2 separate regions of the Homo sapiens genome follow, and region 2 is linked to region 1. A link means that fine-mapping ties the variant in region 1 to the plasma level of a protein whose gene starts in the linked region. Region 1 holds a variant in brackets. A gene starts in the other region. All regions are shown on their reverse strands.

Region 1 (3,019 bases):
TGTACCTTTTCTATGTTTAGATACACTAATACTTATCATTGTGTTAAAGTTGCCTATAGTATTTAGTACAGTTAGATGCTGTACAGGTTTGTAGCCTGAGATCAGTAGGTTACACCATATAGCCTAGATATGTAGTAGGCTGTCCCGTCTAGGTTTGTGTAATTATACTCTATGATGTTTGCATGACGCATTTCTCAGAACCTATCCTTGTTGTTAAGTGACGCACAGGTACTAACAACTACTGAACTGTATGCTGTAAAATGATGAATTTCATGATATGTGAATTGTATCTCAATAGAAAAGAGCATTTATAAAGTTTTTGTTGCTAAATTTATTTACTTTCGGTAAATTTTCTTTTAAAAGATGTCTATGTTTTACTGTCTTCGTGGTGCTGGGACATAACTGACATCTGAAGCCTTGAATGCCTCTCTTTGCAAACTCATTTGTTACTACTCAGTTACCATCTCACCTCCAATACCCAACTGCATACCAAACCTCTAGCCATTACTAGAACACATACTCTGAGCTCTGCCATACTTTAGCGCCTGCACACATGCTGTTTCTTCTGCTCAGAAACTTTTGTGCCTTCTGTCCATCCCATCCAAGCCTGTTTTTCAATGCCCAACACAAATGTCACTGGTACCCTGAAACTTCAACTCCTCCTTGCCCCATCTCAGAAAATGTAACTTTCTGTATTCTTCTCTCTGTATATTCCTCTAAAGTGGTATTTCTTATACTATACCATAATGACCTGGTCCCATATTTGTCCTCTTCTTCCCTCTTCATCCCAGACTGGGACCACAAGGAGGTAGAACTTTTTCTGTTTTTTTTTTTTTTTGAGACAGAGTCTTGCTCTGTCGCCAGGCTGGAGTGCAATGGCACGATCTCGGCTCACTGCAACCTCTGCCTCCCGGGTTCAAGTGATTCTCCTACCTCAGCCTCCCCAGTAGCTGGGATTTCAGGCGCACATCACCATGCCCAGCTAATTTTTGTATTTTTAGTAGAGACGGGATTTCACCATGTTGACCGGGATGGTCTCGATCTCTTGTCCTCGTGATCCGCCCGTCTCAGCCTCCCAAAGTGTTGGGATTACGGCCATGAGCCACTGCGCCCGGCCGGAGGTACAACTTTCTTAGTCAATCTTGAGCACCAGTGTAGTGCTTAGAATCGGGTAGTGAGAGAAGCTAACATTTACTGAATGCCTAAGAAGTCCAGGGCACATAACAGTCTTCACAACCATCCTGTGAAGTACGTATTACCCTATCCATTTTACAGATAAAGAAACTTGAGTTTCAAGAAAGGTATACCTAAGGTCATTCAACTTGTTAAATGATGGAATGGAGGAGTTGAGACCAGATTGGACTTCTGCCTCTTTTTTTTTTTTTTTTTTTTTTGAGACAGGCTGGAGTGCAGTGGTGTGATCTCAGCTCACTGCAAGCTCTGCCTCCCAGGTTCACGCCATTCTCCTGCCTCAGCCTCCCAAGTAGCTGGGACTACAGGCGCCTGCCACCACGCCCGGCTAATTTTTTCTACTTTTAGTAGAGACGGGGTTTCACCGTGTTAGCCAGGATGGTCTCAATCTCCTGACCTCGTGATCTGCCCACCTCGGCCTCCCAAAGTGCTGGGATTACAGGCGTGAGCGACCGCGCCCAGCCGAACTTCTGCCTCTTAAATCCAGGGTTCTCCCTGTCAGTACAGTGAGGTGGTAACTAGCAAAAGCTATGAGATATGACTGCCTGGGTACATATCCCAGCTCTTTCACTTATCTTTGTGGCTTTAC[G/A]CAAATTACTTAACCTCTTTATGATTGTTTCTTCATTTGTAAAAGGAAGATAATAACAGTGCCTATATATAGGGTTTTTATGAAGAATAAATGAGATAGTATATATAAAGCACTTAGAACAGTATCTGGCACATACTAGGTGCTCAATAAATGTTAGCGATGACATTTATTACTGTCCCACATTGAGCTGGTGTTTGTTAAACACTGGATGACTGGATAAAATGTACATCTTTCATGCAGAGATTGCTCGATTATCCATTTCACTGATTCAGGATCAGAGTCTCTTAAGAATCCAGAGAGGGGATGTTGAAGCCCTAAGAAGTAAAAACACTAAAATGATAACATTTTGACCTTTTGAAAACTCTTTGAAGTGGCAATGGCCACAAAATTGAGCGGAAACCAAACATATTCAGCCCCATTTCCAGATAAATTGGATTTGCTAAACCACTCAGAATAACAAGAGCAAGAATTAGATGTTCAGCTAAGCTCTAGCTTCTGATCCTAGATGGTGGCAATAACAACGATAGTATTAATGATAATAGCAGAAACTCTTAATATGTGTGAGGCATTCTTCTAAATGCTTTACATATATTAATTTAATGTTCATCGGAGCAGATTCTCCTACTGTATCCAAGAGATCAGAAATTCAGAGCAAAAAGCAGATTGCTGCCTGATAGCAGATCCACTCTAGGAATGGGGAGATTTTCTCATAAATCTAATGACTGGTGAAAGTGACAAGAGGTTAGTCCACTCAGTGTTGGAAAGGACAAGATCCTAGAAAGTGGAAATGCTCCACTATTGCTTTAGGGGGAACAGCCTGGCTACAACTGGGCAGACTTTCTATTACTAACATCAGGATAATAGGGAAGCTCCTGCCAATGCTGCATAGAACTAAGAACACTTAGCAGTGATGGCTGACTTCCAACTGAGCCATTAAGGTAAGTGTAGAAGAAAGCTCCAGGTAGAAATATCTTTGGGAACTCAGAGAACACACTGAGTGTTTGAAGCTGGTACTTAATCTATTATTGAACTCAGAGTTTGCCATTCTGGGGCCAATTTGAGTCCACTTATGACACCTCCCACAGCACTGCTCATTTCTGTTAACTGGGCTTCACAGAGGGTGAGAAGGGCAGCAATCAGATCATATAATTGGGCCTCATTGTAATAAAATGTTGATTTCTGTTGTCCTTGGACTTCCTTCCAGCCACAATCACTCTATGATCTTGTCTGAGATTCTTT
Region 2 (2,500 bases), not on the chromosome of region 1:
AAGTCAGGAATCTGTTCACTGCTGAAGAGAGAAGAGGGCAAAGGGCAGCAGCTCCATTTAAAAGGTTCTAATAAGCCTCGGGCCTTTCTCTGTCTGAGAAACTTACTCTCTGCCCTCTGTCTCCCTAGATTACTGCCCCTATGCCTGGAGGAAAAACAGGTGAAGGCTAAAAGCCACGGGGATAGCTAAAGAGGGCAAACTGGACCTCCAGCTCCACTTCTGCAGGTCTATGTCAGTCCACAGCCCTTGCACACGCTCCCTTTTAATTCTCCAAGCATACCTCTCACTTCCAAAACTCCTGTGACTCTGCTGATGAGGGCGTCTCGGCCTGGAATGCTCCTCCTTATCTGCATTGTGTGGGTGTCAAAAAGAGTATATTTTGATGACCTCTCCCCGCCCCTCATGCTCGCTCACATCCCCCTCACTCCTTTCAAAGTCCGTTCCCAAAGGCCCCAGTTCACCGTCCTGGGCTGCTTTTAGCCAGGTAAGATCTAAAGTGATCCTCTCTTGGAACCTGGTCTGGGGCCTATACATCTGGGTCAGTCTAGGGGTGCTCTCGAAGGGCCACCCTCAAAGAGCGAGCCTCGGCTGGATTCAGTTCCTAGGTCCCAGCCGTCCGACCTCTGCGACAACACTCAGCACACCCCTTCCCCTCTCCGGGTCTCAGTTGCCCCGTGAGTACAGTCCCTGCTCCAACACGCAAGGTAATCGTTTCTGGCTGCTCTGATGCACTCGGTCCCTAAACTCAGCCTTAGGTCAACCCAGAAAGCACCCGACCCGGGCGACCCCGTAGCTCCCCACCCTCCCGCACTGCCCAGTCGCTGACACAGGGTGACCTCCAATGGCAAGGCCACGACTCTTACCCGTCCGTAGGCGCCCCCCTGTCTGGCCTCAGCTCGCAAGCAGGCTGCACCCACTGAACTCCAGGCCCGGACCGCCACCCTTTACTCCCCTCCCGCGTGAGCCGAGAATCAGCCGAGCTTCCTCCACCAAGAGGATTGGCCCAGCTCGGCGACGACTCAGCCAATTGGCGCTCACGGCGTGATCTTGCCCAATAAAGACGGGGCTCTGTCGCCAGCGTGCCCCTCCCCGCGCTGGGCCGGGGCTTTGCCAGGTTAGTCCCACCCTCTTCGGCCCTGCACCAATAGGGAGAGGCGGCGACGAGCGGACGGCCAATGGGGAGCGGGGCTGCGCGCGCGGGGCGGTGGGAACGGCGCCGAGTCAGTGTACACGTCGGTTGCCTAACAACCGGCAGCGGACTCCTTTGGCTATGGTGAGTGCTGCCGCTCTGTCGCGCCCCACGCCCAGCGGCTGAGCCCTTCCCAGGCCCCAGCTCGGCCACGCCGCCTCTCCTGCGCCTTTCTCGGCTTTAGCGCACCAGTCTTTCCTTTGAGCTCTTTCCCGGGAGAGTAGGGTACAGACGCTAACCAACCTACTGGGCCTGCGCTTCGCTGCTGCCTCCTCTTCACCCACAACAGGCCCACACCCGCCCCTCGGGCTCCCCTTGCATTCCCTGATCCCCTCGGTGAACCTCCCTGGGCAAAAAAGACTCGAATCCCTCACAGGCCCCTGACTCTCTCAGACCTTGGCCCCCTGGCCTCCTCATTCTGCCAAAATTTCCACACACAGCTGGGAAAAGGTGTATCGTGTTCTGTTACAATGTTTTTTACAATTTAAATACAGGGGCATTCAGGGGATGCTTTAGCTTCTTGGAGAAGGCACGAAGGTGCCAGATGGATTGAGTTTTATTACTCGGTACTGACACAATATACATCTTAACAACTTACTAATATTTGGCCAAATCTAGAAGTAATTGGGAAGTCGGAGTACTTACTGGGAAGGGGAGTACTGGGAGTGGGCATCGTAAGACTGTTTTCAGAACCAGGATCCCCACGTTCGGGAAGAGCTGATTATCTCTAGTTATTCACAGTCATCTTCTTGACTGGCTCTCTTTTGGGATGATTTTCAGTAAGAGGTGTCCTTACTGAACAAGTGATCTCCCTGCTTCTAGAAACAACAGTAAAGAAAAGGGAGGGGTAGAAGTTCATGGAAAGATTCATTGTTCTTGCCAGTAAACCCTGTTATCTTTCTTTTTAAGCAAAGCTTTGGAATTGGTTATATAAATGACTTTAAAAATACATATGGGTGTCTGTAACTATGTTATGTAAATATGGACTGTATGATATATTATTGTGCTTGTGTATTGCATAACATATAAAGGCCTCCAACTTTAAGAAGGCAAACATGGCATCAAGTTCTCAGCGAAAAAGAATGAGCCCTAAGCCTGAGCTTACTGAAGAGCAAAAGCAGGAGATCCGGGAAGCTTTTGATCTTTTCGATGCGGATGGAACTGGCACCATAGATGTTAAAGAACTGAAGGCAAGCTCTGTGCATTCCTGCCGTACTGCCCTTCCTTTCCTCTGCCTCTTCCTTGTCATCTCCCTATCACCTCTCTACCCCTTTTGCCCTCTTCTCCCTGCAGTAAGTAACAGGGGAGGTT

Which allele goes with the higher level. Alleles are on the strand shown, and positions count from the first base shown. The strength of an association depends on the size of the effect and on how common the allele is.
In carriers of allele G in region 1, the plasma level of the protein whose gene starts at base 1,224 in region 2 tends to be higher than with A alone (weak association).

Evidence for each region. A credible set is the group of variants that fine-mapping cannot tell apart. PIP is the posterior inclusion probability: the model's chance that the variant is causal. Protein levels are from antibody-based Olink assays in UK Biobank. Linkage for the fine-mapping came from a reference panel and not from the study's own genotypes, which makes the PIPs less certain.
Region 2: CETN2 starts here. The variant in region 1 is the best candidate, but not a certain one, in a credible set for the plasma level of the CETN2 protein (UK Biobank, PIP 0.75).

Annotation. Positions count from the first base shown.
Region 1 is chr22:31,301,884-31,304,902 of GRCh38, reverse strand. It overlaps LOC105372997 (a long non-coding RNA gene), which reads left to right and starts at 2,117. Exons shown (of 4, transcript XR_001755493.3): 1 at 2,117-3,019. The variant G/A (reference allele first, on the strand shown) is at 1,781.
Region 2 is chrX:152,829,481-152,831,980 of GRCh38, reverse strand. CETN2 (centrin 2) reads left to right here and starts at 1,224. Exons shown (of 5, transcript NM_004344.3): 1 at 1,224-1,273; 2 at 2,221-2,379. The coding sequence starts at 1,271. NSDHL (NAD(P) dependent 3-beta-hydroxysteroid dehydrogenase NSDHL) reads right to left here and starts at 918. Exons shown (of 8, transcript NM_015922.3): 1 at 864-918. RefSeq lists a silencer at 985-1,324.